Regions from separate parts of the Homo sapiens genome. Here region 2 is linked to region 1. A link means that fine-mapping ties the variant in region 1 to the expression of a gene that starts in the linked region. Tissue or cell type: whole blood. Region 1 holds a variant in brackets; the other region holds the start of a gene. All regions are shown on one strand. Distances are from middle to middle.

Region 1 (8,104 bases):
TGATTTCTGAGATTTTGGTGCACCCATCACTCGAGTAGTATACACTGCACCCTATTTGTAGTCTTTTATCCCTTGCCCCCCTCCCACCCTTCCCCCCAAATCCCCAAAGTCCATTGTATCATTCTTATGCCTTTGCATCCTCATAGCTTAGCTCCCACACATCAGTGAGAACATATGGTGTTTCGTTTTCCATTCTTGAGCTACTTCACTTACAATAAGAGTCTCCTGTAGTCCCAGCTACTCAGGAGGCTGAGGCAGGAGAATCGCTTGAACCCAGGAGGTGGAGGCTGCAGTGAGCCGAGATCACGCCACTGCATTCCAGCCTGGGCGACAGAGTGAGACTCTGTCCCCCACAAAAAAAAAAAGTTTCTCCAGTCTCATCCAGGTCACTGAAAATGCTGTTAATTCATTCCTCTTCATGGCTGAGTAGCATTCCATCATATATATACATATATAATATGGTAGTGTGTGTATATATATATATATTCCAATCATATACATAATATGATTTTATATATATATACACACACTACCACATATATATGGTATAATATATACATAGTATATGGTATATGGGGTGTGTGTGTGTGTGTGTGTGTGTGTGTGTATATGTATATACACCACAGATTTTTATCCACTTGTTGATTGATGGGCATTTGGGTTGGTTCCATGATTTTGCAATTGTGAATTGTGCTGCTATAAACATGCGTGTGCAAGCATCTTTTTCCTATAATGACTTCTTTTCCTCTGGGTAGATACCCAGTAATGAGATTGCTGGATCAAATGGTAATTCTACTTTTAGTTCTTTAAGGAATCTCCACACTGTTTTCCATAGTGGCTCTACTAGTTTACATTCCCTCCAGCAGTGTAGAAGTGTTCCTTGATGACCGCATTCATGGCAACATCTACCGTTTCTTGATTTTTTGATTATGGCCATTCTTGCAGGAGTAGGGTGGTATTGCATTGTCGTTTTGATTTGCATTTCCCTGATCATTAGTGAGGCTGAGCTTTTTTTCATATATTTGTTGGCCATTTGTGTCTCTTCTTTTGATAATTGTCTATTCATGTCCTTAGCCCACTTTTTGATGTGATTGTTTGTTTCATTTCTTGCTGATTTGTTGGAGTTTGTTTTAGATTCTGGATATTAGTCCTTTGTCAGATGTAAAGATTGTGAAGATTTTCTCCCACTCTGTGCGTTGTCTGTTTACTCTGCTGACTGTTCCTTTTGCTGTGCAAAAGCTCTTTAGTTTAATTAAGCCCCAGCTATTTATCTTTGTTTTATTGCATTTGCTTTTGGGTTCTTGGTCATGAAATCTTTGCCTAAGCCAATGTCTAGAAGGGTTTTTCCAATGTTATGTCTAGAATTTTTATAGTTTCAGGTCTTAGATTTAAGTCCTTAATCCATCTTGAGTTGATTTTTGTATAAGGTGAGAGATGAGGATCCAGTTTCGTTCTCCTACATGTGGCTAGCCAATTATCCCAGCACCATTTGTTTAAAAGGGTGTCCTTTCCCCACTTTATGTTTCTGTTTGCTTTGTTGAAGATCAGTTGGCTATAAGTATTTGGATTTATTTCTGGGTTCTCTATTCTGTTCCATTGGTCTATATGCCTGTTTTTATACCAGTACCATGCTGTTTTGGTTACTATGGCCTTATAGTATAGTTTGAAATCAGGTAGTGCGATGCCTTCAGATTTGTTCTTCATGCTTAGTCTTGCTTTGGCTATGCGGGCTCTATTTTGGTTTCATATGAATTTTAGAATTTTTTTTTCTAATTATGTGAAGAATGATAGTGGTGTTCTGATGGGGATTGCATTGAATTTGTAGATTGCTTTTAGCAGTATGGCTATTTTCACAGTATTGATTCTACTCATCCGTGAGCTTGGGGTGTGTTTCCATTTGTTTATGTTGTCTATGATTTCTTTCAGCAGTGTTTGTAGTTTTCCTTATAGAGGTCTTTTGCCTCCTTGGTTAGGTATATCTCTAAGTATTTTATTATTTTTGCAGCTGTTGTAAAGGGGTTGAGTTCTTGATTTGACTCTCCGCTTGGTAGCTGTTGGTGTAGAGAAGAGCTACTGATTTGTGTACATTAGTCTTGTATCCGGAAACTTTGCTGAATTCTTTTATCATTTCTAGGAGCTTTCTGGAGAGTCTTTAGGGTTTTCAAGGTAAATGATCATATTGTCAGGAAACAATGACAGTTTGACTTCCTCTTTACCAATTTGGGTGTCCTTTATTTCCTTCTCTTGTCTGATTGCTCTGGCTGGGACTTCCAGTTCTATGTTGAAGAGGAGTGGTGAGAGTGGGTAGGTATCCTTGTCTCATTCCAGTTCTCAGAGAGAATGCTTTCAGCTTTCCCCATCCAATATTATGTTTGCTGTGGATTTGCCATAGATGGCTTTTAATACATTGAGTTATGTCCATTGTATGCTGATTTTGCTGAGAGTTTTAATCATAAAGGGATGCTGGATTTTGTTGAATGCTTTTTCTGCATCTATTGAGATGATCATGTGACTTTTGTTTTTAATTCTGTTTATGTGGTGTATCACATTTATTGACTTGTGTATGTTAAACCATCCCTGCATCCCTGCTATGTAACCCACGTGATCATGGTGGATTATCTTTTTGATATGTTGTTGGATTCAGTTAGCGAGTATTTTGTTAAAGATTTTAGTGTCTGTGTTTATCAGGGATGTCAGTCTGTGGTTTTCTTTTTTAGATATGTCCTTTCCTGGTTTTGGTATTAGGGTGATTCTGCCTTCATAGAATGAATTAGGGAAGGTTCCCTTTTTTCTCTATCTTGTGGAATAGTGTCAAAAGGATTGGTATCAATTCTTTGAATGTCTGGTAGAATTCTGCTGTGAATCCTTCTGGTCCTGGACTTTTTTTTTGTTGGTAATTTTTTAATTACCATTTAAATCTTGGTGCTTGCTATTGGTCTGTTCAGGGTATCTAATTCTTTCTGAGTTAAGCTAGGAGTGTTGTATTTTTCCAGGAATTTATCCATCTCTTCTAGGTTTTCTAGTTTATGTGCATAAAGATGTTCTTAGTAGCCTTGAATGATCTTTTGTATTTCAGCGGTGTCAGTTGTAATATGTCCAGTTTTGTGTCTTAATTAGGTTATTTGGATTTTTTCTGTTCTTTTCTTGGTTAATCTTGCTAATAGTCTATCAAATTTATTTATCTTTTCCAAGAACTAGCTTTTTGTTTCATTTATCTTTTGTATTTTTTTTGTTTGTTTATTTCAATTTCATTTAATTCTGCTCTGATCTTGGTTATTTCCTTTCTTCTGCTGGGTTTGGGTTTGGTTTGTTCTTGTTTCTCTAGTTCCTTGAGGTGTGACCTTAGAATGTCGGTTTGTATTCTTTCCGTCTTTTTGATATAGGCATTTAATGCTATGAACTCTTCTCTTAGCACAGCCTTTGCTGTATCCCAGAGGTTTTGATAGGTAGTGTCATTATTGTTGTTCAGTTCAAAGAATTTTTAATTTCCGTCTGAGTTTTGTTTTTGACCAAATGATCATTCAGGAGCAGGTTATTTAACGTCCATGTATTTGCATGGTCTTGAAGGTTCCTTTTGGAGTTGATTTCCAATTTTATTCCACTCTGAGAGAGTGCTTGATATAATTTCAATTTTCTTAAATTTATTGAGGCTCATCTAGTGG[C/T]CTATCACATGGTCTATCTTGGAGAAGGTTCTGTGCACTGTTGAATAGAATGTGTATTCTGTGGTTGTTGGAGAAAATGTTTTGTATATATCTGCTAAGTCCATTTGTTCCAAGGTATAGTTTAAATCCATTGTTTCTTTGTTGACTTTTTGTGTTGATGTCCTGTCTAGTGCTGTCAGTGGAGTATTGAAGTCCCCCACTGTTATGTATTGCTGTCTATCTCATTTCTTAGGTCTGTTAGTAATTGTTTTACAAATTTGGGAGCACCAGTGTTAGGTGCATATATGTTTAGGATTGTGATATTTTCTTGTTGGACAAGGCCTTTACCATTATATAATGTCCCTCTTTGTCTCTTCAACTGCTGTTGCTTTAAAGTTTGTTTTGTCTGATATAAGAATAGCTACCCCTGCTCGCTTTTGGTGTCCATTTGCATGAAATGCTTTTTCCAACCTTTTTATTTCAGTTTATGTAGTCCTTATGTGTTAGGTGAGTATCCTGAAGGGAGCAGATGGTTGGTGAGTTCTTATCCATTCTGCAGTTTTGTATCTTTTAGGTAGAGCATTTAAGCCATTTACATTCAATGTTACTATTGAGATGTGAGATACCATTCCATTCATCGTGCTATTTGTTGACTTTGTACCTTGGTTTTTTGTTTTTTATTTTTGCTTTTTAAATTTTCATTTTTTTTGTTTTATAAGTCCTGTGTGATTTATGCTTTAAAGAGCTTCTGTTTTGATGTGTTTCCAGGATTAGAGCTCTTTTTAGCAGTTCTTGGTAGTGGTGGCTTGGTAGTGGCGAATTCTCTCAGCATTTGTTTGTCTGGAAAAGACTATATCTTTCCTTCATATATGATGCTTAGTTTCGCTGGATACAAAATTCTTGGCTGATAATTGTTTTGTTTGAGGAGGCTGAAGATAGGGCCCCAATCCCTTCCAGCTTGTAGGGTGTCTGCTGAGAAAACTGCTGTTAATCTGTTAGGTTTTCCTTTATAGGGTACCTGATGCTTTTGTCTCACAGATGTTAAGATTCTTTTCTTCGTCTTAACTTTAGATAACCTGATGACAACGTGCCTAGGTGATGATCTTTTTGCGATGAATTTCCCAGGTGTTCTTTGTGCTTCTTGTATTTGGATGTCTAGATCTCTAGCGAGGCCAGGGAAGTTTTCCTCAATTATTCCCCCAAATATGTTTTCCAAACTTTTAGATTTCTTTTCTTCCTCAGGAACATCAATTATTCTTTTTTTTAATCCACAAAAAAATTATAATGTAAGTTAAAGTACAAATGAGGGTTCATTTTTTTTACTCATCATATTGGCAAAAGTTAAGAAATTGCAAGATACAGTCATGCACTGCATAAGGATGTTTTAGTTAACAACAGACTGCAGATAAGATAGCAGTCCCATAAGATTATAAGACTGTATTTTTACTATACCTTTTCTATGTTAAGATACACAGATACAAACCATTGTGTTACAGTTGCCTACAGTATTCAGTGTAGTACATGCTGTACAGGTTTATAGCCTGGGAGCAAAAGGTTATATCATATAGCCAAGGTGTGTGTGGTGGGCTATACCCTCCATTTGTATAAGTACACTATGAGGAACATCAATTATTCTTAGGTTTGGTCATTTAACATAATCCCAGACTTCTTGGAGGCTTTGTTCATATTTTCTTTTTCTTTTTTCTTTGTCTTTGTTGGATTGGGTTAATTCGAAGACCTGGTCTTCGAGCTCTGAATTTCTTTCTTCTACTTGTTCAATTCTATTGCTGAGACTTTCCAGAGCATTTTGCAGTTCTGTAAGTGTGCCCAATTTCCCTGATGTTTTGATTGCTTTTTCTTTATGCCATCTATTTCCTTGAATATTTCTCCCTTTCCTTCTTGTATCATTTTTTTGGATTTCCTTGCATTGGGCTTCGCCTTTCTCTGGTGCCTCCCTGATTAGCTTAATAACTAACATCCTGAATTCTTTTTCATGTAAATCAGGGATTTCTTCTTGGTTTGGAACCATTGCTGGTGAGCTAGTGTGATTTTCTGGGGGTGTTAAAGAGCCTTGTTTTGTCATAGTACCAGAGTTGGTTTTCTGGTTCCTTCTCATTTGGGTAGGCTCTGTCAGAGGGAAGGTATAGAGCTGAAGTCTTTTGTTCAGATTCTTTTGTCCCATGGGGTTCTCCCTTGATGTAGTACTCTCCCCCTTTTCCTATGGATGTGGCTTCCTATGAGCTGAACTGTAGTAATTGTTATCTCTCTTCTTGGTCTAGCCACCCAGCAAGCCTACCTGGTTCTGGGCTGGTGCTGGGGGTTATCTGCACAGAGTCCTGTGATGTGAACCGTCTATGGCTCCCTCAGTCGTGGATACCAGCACCTGTTCTAGTGGAGGTGGCAGCGGGGGTGAAACAGTTCGTGAGGGTTCTTAGCTTTGGTGGTTTAATGTTCTGTTTTTGTGCTGCTTGGTCTCCTGCCGGGAGGTGGCACTTTCCAAAGAGCATCAGCTGTGATAGTATGGAGAGGAACTGGTGGTGGGCAGAGCCCCAGAACTCCCAAGAGTATATTTCTTCATATACCCTACCCACCCTTTGTCTTCAGCTACCAGGTCGGGGCAGGGCTAGGCGTGTCTGAGCTCAGATTCTTCTTGGGCAGGTCTTGCTGTGGCTGCTGTGGGGAATGGGGGTGAGTTTCCCAGGTCAGTGGAGTTATGTACCTAGGAGGATTATGGCTGCCTCTGCTGAGTCATGCAGGTTGTCAGGGAAGTGGGGGAAAGCAGGCGGTCACAGACCTCACCTGGTCTCCACACAATCTGAAGGGCTGGTCTTACTCCCACCATGCCCCTACTAACAGCCTTAAGGCTGTTTCCAGGCAGTGGGCAAGCAGGACTTGAGAACTTGTCCCATGCTACCTGCCTCCCAGCTGCAAAAGAAAAGAGTTTTGGTTGTTCTTCCCCCTGTGGAGTCTGTACACTGGATTCATGCCCTCCCCTGAGTTCTAGCGGGAGGCACCTCGCCCGATTCAAATTGTTACAAAGTTCAGCTGGAGACTTCCTTCTCCTTGGGGCGTTTTCCCCTGTGCCTCTGGCCGCCCTCCCGAAGGATCCCTGTGGTGCCAGGCAGGAATGGCCTGCTTGGGGACCCTGCGAACTCCCAGAGCCTTTCCTGCTGCTTCCTCTACCCCTGTATTTTGCTCGGCTCTCTAAATTGACTCAGCTCCAGGTAAGGTTGGAAACTTCTCCTGCAAACCAGACCTTCAGTTTCCCCAGTGGGGGTGTGTTTGGGAGTGGAGGGTCTCCCTTTCCCACTTTCGCAGTTTGGGCACTCACAGTATTTGGGGTGTCTCCCAGGTCCTGCAGGAGCAGTCCACTGCCTTCGGAGGGTCTTTGGGTCCTCTCGGGATTCCTGCTTTGTTCTTGCAGTCATTCTGGAGCTAAAATTTCTCACGTGAGCCTCCACACACTGCTCTGTCCATCTGAGTTGGAGCTACAATCTAGTCCTACTTCCCATCCACCAGGATGATCTTCTCTTTTATCTGATGATGAGTCTTAATATAACATCCATACTTGATCATTATGCTTAAGTTTGAATATCTGAAGTGACAGAGAACTACTTTCAGAAAGACTCCATTCATTTTTGGTGAGCACTGAGTATTAGAACATTAATTCTTTCTATTGAACTAAATGTAATATGTCTCCTCGTAGCTTTAGCTTTTTCTGCGAACTGGTCCTAGTTCAGTCTTTTCTGGTTAATATGAACAGGGCTGATTTGTCTTCCATATGATAATATTTCCAACATTTAAAAACAGCTGTATTCAACCTAAGTCTATTTTTTGATTTTCTATTCTTTTCTATTGATCTGTCTATTAGTGGGTCATTACCACAATATTTTAATTATTGAGGCTTTATGATACATTTTCCTTTTTCTTTTTTTTTTTTTTGACTTTTAAGTTCGGGGTACATGTGCAGGTTTGTCACAAAGGTAAACTTGTGTCATGGAGGTTTGTTGTACAGATTATTTCATCACCTAGGTATTGAGCCTAGTACCCATTAGCTGTTTTTCTTGATCCTCTCCCTCTGTCCATCCTCCACCATCCGAAAGGCCCCAGTATGTATTGTTCCCCTTTGTGTGTCCATGTGGTCTCATCATTTAGGTCCCACTTAACAGGGAAAATGTAGTATTTGGTTTTCTCTTCCTGTGTTAGTTTGCTAAGAATAATGGCCTCTAGCTCCATCCATGTCCCTGCAAATGACATGATCTCATTCTTTTTTATGGCTGCATAGTATTCCATGGTGTATATGTACTGCATTTTCTTTATCTAGTCTATCATTGATGGATATTTAGGTTAGTTCCATGTCATTGCTATTGTGTATAGTGCTGCAGTGAACATATGCATGCATGTGTCTTTATCATAGAATGATTTATATTCCTTCAGGTATATACTTAGTAATGGGATTGCTG
Region 2 (8,104 bases), 220 kb before region 1:
AGAGGGAGTCTTGCTCTGTTGCCCAGGATGGAGTGCAGTGGCGCGATCTCGGCTCACTGCAACCTCTGCCTCCCAGGTTCAAGAGATTCTCCTGCCTCAGCCTCCCAAGTAGCTAGGATTATAGGCGCCTGCCACCACACCCGGCTAATTTTTTGTATTTTTAGTAGAGACAGGTTTTCACCATGTTGGCCAAGCTGGTCTCGAACTCCTGACCTCAGGTGATCCGCCCACCTTGGCCTCCCAAAGTGCTGAGATTACAGGTGTGAGCGACCACGCCTGGCCTTTAACATCCTTTTATTGTAACACTTATCTCATTGTTTTGAAATGGCTTATACCTATTAGTGTCTCCAATAGACAGTCTTATTCATATTCTTAGCACTAGCAACTATACAAGTTCTGTACACCTGTTTTTTTTTCAATATGATGAAGTCAACACTTGCATTTAACCAAACCTTGATTTCCAAGGATTGAGTAATGTGAGATTTTCAGTGCAGTGGTGGGAGAGGCTTGGAGTCTGAGCACAGGCTTTGGAGTCCCTCCAATCATATATCATCTTTGCCCTTGCACTAAATGGTATCCCCATCCTCTCAATTGCTTAAGGAAACAACCTGGGAGTCATCTCGTTTACTACCTTTCTTCACACCTGCACCTCGGGAAAATATCCTGAAATCTTTCAATTTCTATTTCCACACCAACCAGCCTAGTCCAGGTACCACCATCTACCCCCTGAACTTGCCCAATAACTTTGTATTGTTCTTCGGCTCCTTTTTGTTCCATTGCTGCTCCCTTCAAGTCATTCTCTATAAAATAGGTTGATTTAAAAAAAAAAATAAACCAATGGCCGGGCACGTGGCTCATGCCTGTAATCCCAGCAGTTTGGGAGGCTGAGGCGGGAGGATCACTTGAGCCCAGGAGTTCAGGACCAGCCTGGGCAACACAGCGAAACCCTGTCTCTACAAAAAATACAAAAATTAGTCTGGTGTGGTGACGCCCACCTGTAGTCCCAGGTACTAGGGAGGCTGAGGTGGGAAGATGACTTAGCGAGCCTGGGGAGGTAGAGGATGCAGTGAGCCCTGATTGCACCACTGCACTCCAGCCTGGGCGACAGAGTGAGACCCCATCTCAAAACAACAAAAACCCAAACCCTTCATTATCTTGCCTTTGCACTTAACAGATAAATCCAAACAACGTGATTAGGTTCCTGCTTAATGCTCCAAACTCAACTTCAAACCCCTATTTGACATGCTCAAGCCTCCTGGCCTGTTCCTCAAACAGCCACGCTTCAGCATCAGCCACAGTTCAGCATCGGGGCCTTGACACCCATTATCCTCTGTCTAGAATGTTCTTCCTCCCCATGGTTGGCTTGGCTGGCTCCTTCTTGTCATTTAGGTCTTAGCTCCTGAATTATCTCCTCAGAAAATCCTTCCCTGACCATTCTGTTTTGTTTTCTGCTCAGTACTTATCACTGCCAGTGATTATCTCATCTATTCGTTTTATTATTTATATTCTTCATTAGAAACATAAGCTTTTGTTGTTTGAGACAGAGTCCCACTGTGTTGACCAGGCTGCAGTGCAGTGGCATGATTTTTTGGCTCACTGCATCCTCCGTCCCTCACCCCCCATCCCCCACCACAAGCAATCCTCTTATCTCAGCCTCCCGAGTAGCTGGGACCATAGGGGCCTGCCACAATTCCCAGCAAATTTTGTTGTCATTGTTGTTGTTGTTGTTGTTGTTTTTAAATTCTGTAGAGAGGGAGTCTCACTATGTTGCTCAGGCTGGTCTTGGACTCCTGGCCTCAAAGTGATCCTCCTGCCTCAGCCTCCCAAAGTGCTGGGATTATAGGCTTGAGCCACCTGTTTGTTTCCTTTCATACCTAGTCCTGCAGAACATAAGCCTCTAAGTGCAGGGGCTTCTTCTGTTTATTCACCACTGTATTTCTAGCACCAAGAATACTATCAATATTTTTTGAATGAATGAATCAAACAGTGAAAAGGCCAGTCATCTTGGTGTATATAGAAGGTAGCCAACAGAGACCCAATAGAAATGAGTGCCTATGTTCCTACTGCTCTATAACTAGTGGGAGTGGGGAGGGGAAGCAGCTGGGGGTCTACCAGACCCTGTCACCAACTAGTCAGCACACGTGGCAATCACAGTTGTAGAAGAGGCCAAACGGAGCAGATCTGCCAATGACAGCCAGTACTAAACTCGACTGGATGCTGAGGGCCATTTCTGCTTTGAGTGAACAGTGCAGCCTGCTGGGTGGCCAAGGGAACGTGTACAAATCCACTTTGTTTAAAGGACCCAGAGAGTAGTCAGTTCTGCTAAACCTCATCTGTTTGTTCAGGGATTTTTGTCCTGGGGAGGAGTGGGGAAGAAGCGATTAGTCAGGCCAGGCTAGCTGGTATTAGTTTGCAGGCTGTGAGTGCGACTCTTCAGTCTCTGCTCCTCTCATCATTGCCTTTTCACCTACCTTTACCCTAAATTTACGTACACCTCTGCCTTCACAAATTCCAAGCGATTAACTGTTGTATTTAATCTCTGTCCCAAATCTCTCTGCATCATTCTTCTTTTGATTATGAAGTCACGAGGGCCCTTTGTTTATTTTATTTTTAAAACTTTTTTTGAGAAGGAGTTTAGCTCTTATTGCCCAGGCTGGAGTGCAATGGCACAATCTAGGCTCACTGCAACCTCTGGCTTCCGGGTTCAAGCAATCCTCCTGCCTCAGCCTCCCGAATAGCTGGGATTACAGGCGCGCGCCACCAAGCCCGGCTAATTTTTTGTATTTAGTAGAGACGGGGTTTCACCATGTTGGTCAGGCTGGTCTCGATCCTAACCTCAGGTGACCCAGCCACCTCGGTCTCCCAAAGTGTTGGGATTACAGGCGTGAGCCACCGCACCTGGCCTCAAGGGCCCTTAAATATTACTTAGTTGTTCCATTATTTGGTGTGTTTTATTATTTGGTGCAGGTTTTTTCCCCTTATCTAGTTTGAATGTTGCTGAAGGACGCTGGTTTTCAAACGGTAAGGAATCTCCTGATAAAGGCACGAATCTTGGTGTGCAGATAAGCCAGCGATTCTTGCTTCTGGCTAGTTCTACGTTGTTCCTGGATGGTCAGTTCAAACTGCAATGATCCACAGCTCCAGAAGCGGCTTCTTCCAGTCGGCCTAGGAGCCAAACGCCCCTGCAGCTCCATGCTACCACGCAGGGTGCCGTTTCGGGCTTGCAGGGAGTTGTCGCAGTCCCGTTTTGGCTGCACATTCTACTGCTGGGGTGGAAGTGTCAAGCAAGATGTTGTCGCCGGTATCATGATGTCCGGGTGAGAAGCTTCCTTGGCAGGTTGCCAGGGCCAGCCTGCGAGCACTGGCGCCGGGGACCCGCGCGCCCGGGAAGGGGCGGGGAGGTGGGCGGAGCCTGGCAACCTGGGGACCACCAATAGGATGCTCAGCCGGAGGTGGCCCTGCGCGTGACGCAGCGGTGCTCGGAGGCAGGGGGCGTAGGGGCCGGGCTGTCCGGCGCTTTAGCTTAGCAGGCGACGTTGCGGGCCCTGGGCGCCAGGAGAGCTTCCCGGAGTCGACCTTCCTGCTGGCTGCTCTGTGACCGCTTCCCGGCTCTGCCCTCTTGGCCGAAGTGCCCGCTGCCGGGCGCGGGCCTCAGGTAACGGTGGTGCTCCCGCGCCTCTCCTCGCTTCCCGCTTGGGTCCACCGGCCTCAGCCCGCGGGGAAGGGAGAAGCGGTGGCGGCAGCAGCTCCGGCCCGGCCTTGTCCTGGGCTGTGCTGCGGAGAAGGCGAGGCTCGGCGACTGCAGGGGAGTTGGGGAGGGGAGGGCGGGAAAGTTACCGTCAGGCGCCCGGGTCACGGGCAGCCTTTTAAACCCTGCACGCTGGTTTGGTGTTCCGCAAATCTCGTGGCATCTCTCAAGTCAGTAGTAAAGAAAGTTAGGAATTAGAAGACGTTTTATTCTTTAAAAAGCGAAACCAAAAATGCACTCAGGAAGTCAGCTTTTTAATGATTTAGAGAAAATGTGTGAAGGGAAGGATGGTATTAGCAAGACATGAAAATCTGTAGGGGCACCAGAACCTTTAATCAAGCTCATGTTTTATTGTAAAATATTAGGATGTAGGTAAGTTTCTGTTTTCCCTAAGTGTTAATGGTCATGTAATTTAAATAATATGTATATTGAAAGGTTATTTCTAAGTGAGAAACAACTATATAAACTTTATTCTCCGTATATATATTTAGGTTAAGTTCGTTGGTCACTTTTGTTTGTTTGAGACGGAGTCTCGCTGTGTCGCAAGGCTGGAGTGCAGTGGCGCAATCTCGGCTCACTGCAACCTCTGCCTCCCGGGTTCAAGCGATTCTTGTGCCTCAGCCTCCTGAGTAGCTGGGATTACAGGCGTGCGCCACCACGCCCAGGTAATTTTTGTAGTTTTAGTAGAGACGGGGTTTCACCATGTTGGACCAGGTTGGTCTCAAACTCCTGACCTCAAGTGATCCGCCCGCTTCGGCCTCCCAAAGTGCTGGGATTACAGGCGTGAGCCACCGCGCCTGGCCTGTTGGTCACTTTTTAATATTTAAGTGGCTGCCACCTGTTTAAACCACTTTTTTCTTTTTTTCAGCCTGCTTGATTTCCTCTTCCTTGAAGTAGAATTCAATTTGAAGCTTTTTTTTTTTCTTTTTAAAAGTTGGGCGGTGTCAGTGAATGACTTGTTAAGGAAGTCTGTGCGTTGTCTGGGTGTGAGAATGGGTTTTGGAAGGAGCTCTGTGGCACTGAATTATCGTTTAGAAATGCACGTGTTTTAGTGAATCACATGCTTAGAATGCATCTGAGGTTTCGCAGTCTTTTAGGATAAAGACCTACTGAGTGAGCACACTCTATCTCTGGTTCATTTGGCCCACTTTCCTTCTGGCTTTCCAGGTTCATGCCACACTGGCTTTATTTTTGTTACTGGAAAGCTTCATTTTCTTTCCTCTCTTGGCTTTTAGGAGTTTCCTCCACCTCTAATGCTGTATTCTCTCCCTCCCTCCAACTCTTATACCTGCCTCAGATATCAGCCCACATATCACTTCCTCTGGAAATCACCCCATCCCCATTAAGCCCTCCATGAACTCTTTATTCTCCTTAGCAGAAGTTGATCATTAATTGTAATGAATTAGTTGCTTTGTTTCCTCTGCTAGTGCATTTCATGAAGGCTGGTTTAGCCTGTTGTAATTTTCAGGGTCTGGTCCAGCACTTGGCCCAGAGAAAGAATGAATAAGTTGGTGGACAGAGGAAGGAACTTTTGAATGAGAAATACAGTGATCCCCACTTAACTGCTTTCTGTAGTTTCAGCTACCTGAGGTGCGAAACAGAGTACAATAAGACATTTCGAGAGATACCATGTTCAAGTGAATTTTAATACAGTATATTGTTAATCTCTTACTGTGCCTAACTTTTTGAAACTTTGCCTCCCAGGTTCAAGGGATATTCATGCCCCAGCCTCCCAAGTAGCTGGGATTACAGGCGTGTCCCAGTACGCCCGGCTAATTTTTTTTTTTTTTTTTGAGATGGAGTTTGGCGCTTGTTGCCCAGGCTGGAATGGCACGATCTCGGCTCCCCGCAACCTCCGCCTCCCGGGTTCAAGCGATTCTCCGCCTCAGCCTCCCAAGTAGCTGGGATTACGGGCATGTGCTACCACGCCCGGCTAATTTTTTTTTTTTTTTTTTTTTTTTTTTTTTTTTTTAGTAAAGACTGATCAGATCTTACTGGTCAGGCTGGTCTCGAACTTCCAACCTCAGGTGATCCACCCGCCTCAGCCTCCCAAAGTGCTGGGATTACAGGCGTGAGCCACCGCGCCCAGCTCACCCGGCTAATTTTTGTATTTTTAGTAGAGACAGGGAGGGTTTCACTGTGTTGGCCAGACTGGTCTCAAACTCCTGATCTCAGATGATCGGTCTGCCTCGGCCTCCCAAAGAGGTGGGATTACAGGCGTGAGCCACTGTGCCCAGCCTGTAAATGAAACTTTATAATAGGTATGTATAGGAAAAAACAACGTGTATTGGGTTCACTGTTATTCACAGTTCTAGGCATCCACTGGGAGTCTTGGACCGTATCCCCCATGGATATGGGAGAACTACTGTATTAACCAGGGAAGAGTCCCTTTTTCCTATGGGAAAAAGTTTTTAACAAAGACCAGCCAAGTTCTATTTTTCTAAGAGGATGGCTTTGTTTTGCATTTTTTTTGCCACATTGGTTAATAAGAGATTATACTAACCATACAGATGTAAATGAGAATTTGTTCTTGTTCTTTAGTTTTGCTAATTACTTAAAGACCTAGTTCTGTGATATGTAAAAGTTGTAGCGTTGTGTTAGGGCCAACCTTTGGGTGCCAGAGGGAAATTTTTTTTGCTCTGGATTGTAAATTCTATCCACAGTTGTGTCCCCTTTCCACCACTGAATCTAAGGGTGATGTGGCAAAGTTCTTTACCTGGAGTAGGCACTCAGTATTTGTGATACAGATTTATGGGCTCTTTTGAAAGCTGTATTAATGGGAACACGGAGGCAGGCTAAAGTTGACATGTCTTTCCAAGTTCATTTGTTTCTCAAATCATTTCTTTTTGTTTTGCTTTCTTAAGATAAGTTAGATGCTTATCACACTGAACATTATGTAATTGCGTGCACAGATTAGATTCTTAAGAAATTCTTTTTCAATCAGTGTGTTGTATAAATAGCTGTCTACTTAGCTTTGTTACCTGGGGGGGAATAGCTTTATGTTACCTGTGACTTTGAACAAGTTTGTTAGCATTTCTGAATCTCCTGCATCTTTAAAAATGGACATGTTAAATGAGATATGTGCTACACCTACTGCACTCAGCACTTTGTTACCTGCTTCCTAAACGCTAGAGATTCCTTCACTGCTAGACCTCTTGAGAGACTAGTCTTATGATCACTGTTTTCACTTCCTCAACTTACTGGCGGTGTACTCCAATATATTTATTTGTCCTTCCTCCTAAAACTGTGCATGTAATCAAATCATAGCTATTAATGTCCCCCAATTGTGAAATATCCCATGTCCTGTCCTTTTCTTTTCTTTTTTGAGACGGAGTCCAGCTCTGTCACCCAGGCTGGAGTGCAGTGGCGCGATCTCGGCTCACTGCAACCTCCGCCTCCTGGGTTCAAGCAATTCTCTGCTTCGGCCTCCCGAGTAGCTGGGATTACAGGCACCTGCCATCACCCCTGGCTAATTTTTTGTATTTTTAGTAGAGACGGGGTTTCATCATCTTGGCCAGGCCAGTCTAGAATTCCTGACCTTGTGATCCACCCGCCTCAGCCTCCCAAAGTGCTGGGATTACAGGCGTGAGCCGGTGCGCTTGTTTAAGAAACAGTGGAAGGCCAAAGTAATGAGTAGAGAAAATGAGACAGCCAAGATCATGCCACTGCACTTCAACCTGGGCGACATGGCATGACTCCGTCTCAAAAAAAAAAAAAAAATGCCGGGCGCGGTGGCTCACACCTGTAATCCCAGCACTTTGGGAGGCCGAGGCAGGCGGATCACCTGAGGTTGGGAGTTCGACACCCCATCTCTACTAAAAATACAAAATTAGCTGGGTGTGGTGGCCTGTAACCCCAGCTGCTCCAGAGGCTGAGGCAGGAGAATCGCTTGAATCCAGGAGGCGGAGGTTGCGGTGAGCTGAGATCGTGCCATTGCACTCCAGTCTGACCAACAAGAGTGAAACTCTGTCTCAAAAAAAAAAAAAGATTGATGGTGTTTAAGGGGGTGGTGGTGAGTGGCAGGCAATGCAGAAGTTACTAGATCATGGTAAGGACTTAGGATGTTTGAAGGGGTTTAAGTTGTGAAGTGACTTGATCTAACTTGAGTGCAATGGTGTGATTGAGGTTCACTGCAACCTCCACCTCCGGGTTCAAGCGATTCTTCTGCCTCAGCCTCCTGAGTAGCTGGGACTACAGGTGCCTGCCACCACACCTGGCTAATTTTTTGTATTTTTAGTAGAGACGAGGTTTCACCGTGCTAGGCTAGCCAGGATGGTCTCGATCTCCTGACCTGGTGATCTGCCCACCTCGGCCTCCCAAAGTGCTGGGATTACAGATGTATTCCACCATGCCCGG

What was found. PIP is the estimated chance that this variant, and not a neighbour inherited with it, causes the effect.
Region 2: it holds the start of SOAT1, and the variant in region 1 is fine-mapped to the expression of SOAT1 in whole blood (INTERVAL, PIP above 0.99).

The regions. Positions count from the first base shown.
Region 1 is chr1:179,510,817-179,518,920 of GRCh38, forward strand. The region is part of intron 21 of AXDND1 (axonemal dynein light chain domain containing 1); the gene reads left to right. Among named protein-coding and RNA genes, the nearest start is that of NPHS2, 61 kb to the right of the region's middle. RefSeq lists an enhancer at 6,076-7,275. The variant C/T (reference allele first, on the strand shown) is at 3,663.
Region 2 is chr1:179,290,282-179,298,385 of GRCh38, forward strand. SOAT1 (sterol O-acyltransferase 1) reads left to right here and starts at 3,516. Exons shown (of 16, transcript NM_003101.6): 1 at 3,516-3,655. RefSeq lists a silencer at 3,311-3,500 and an enhancer at 3,713-4,220.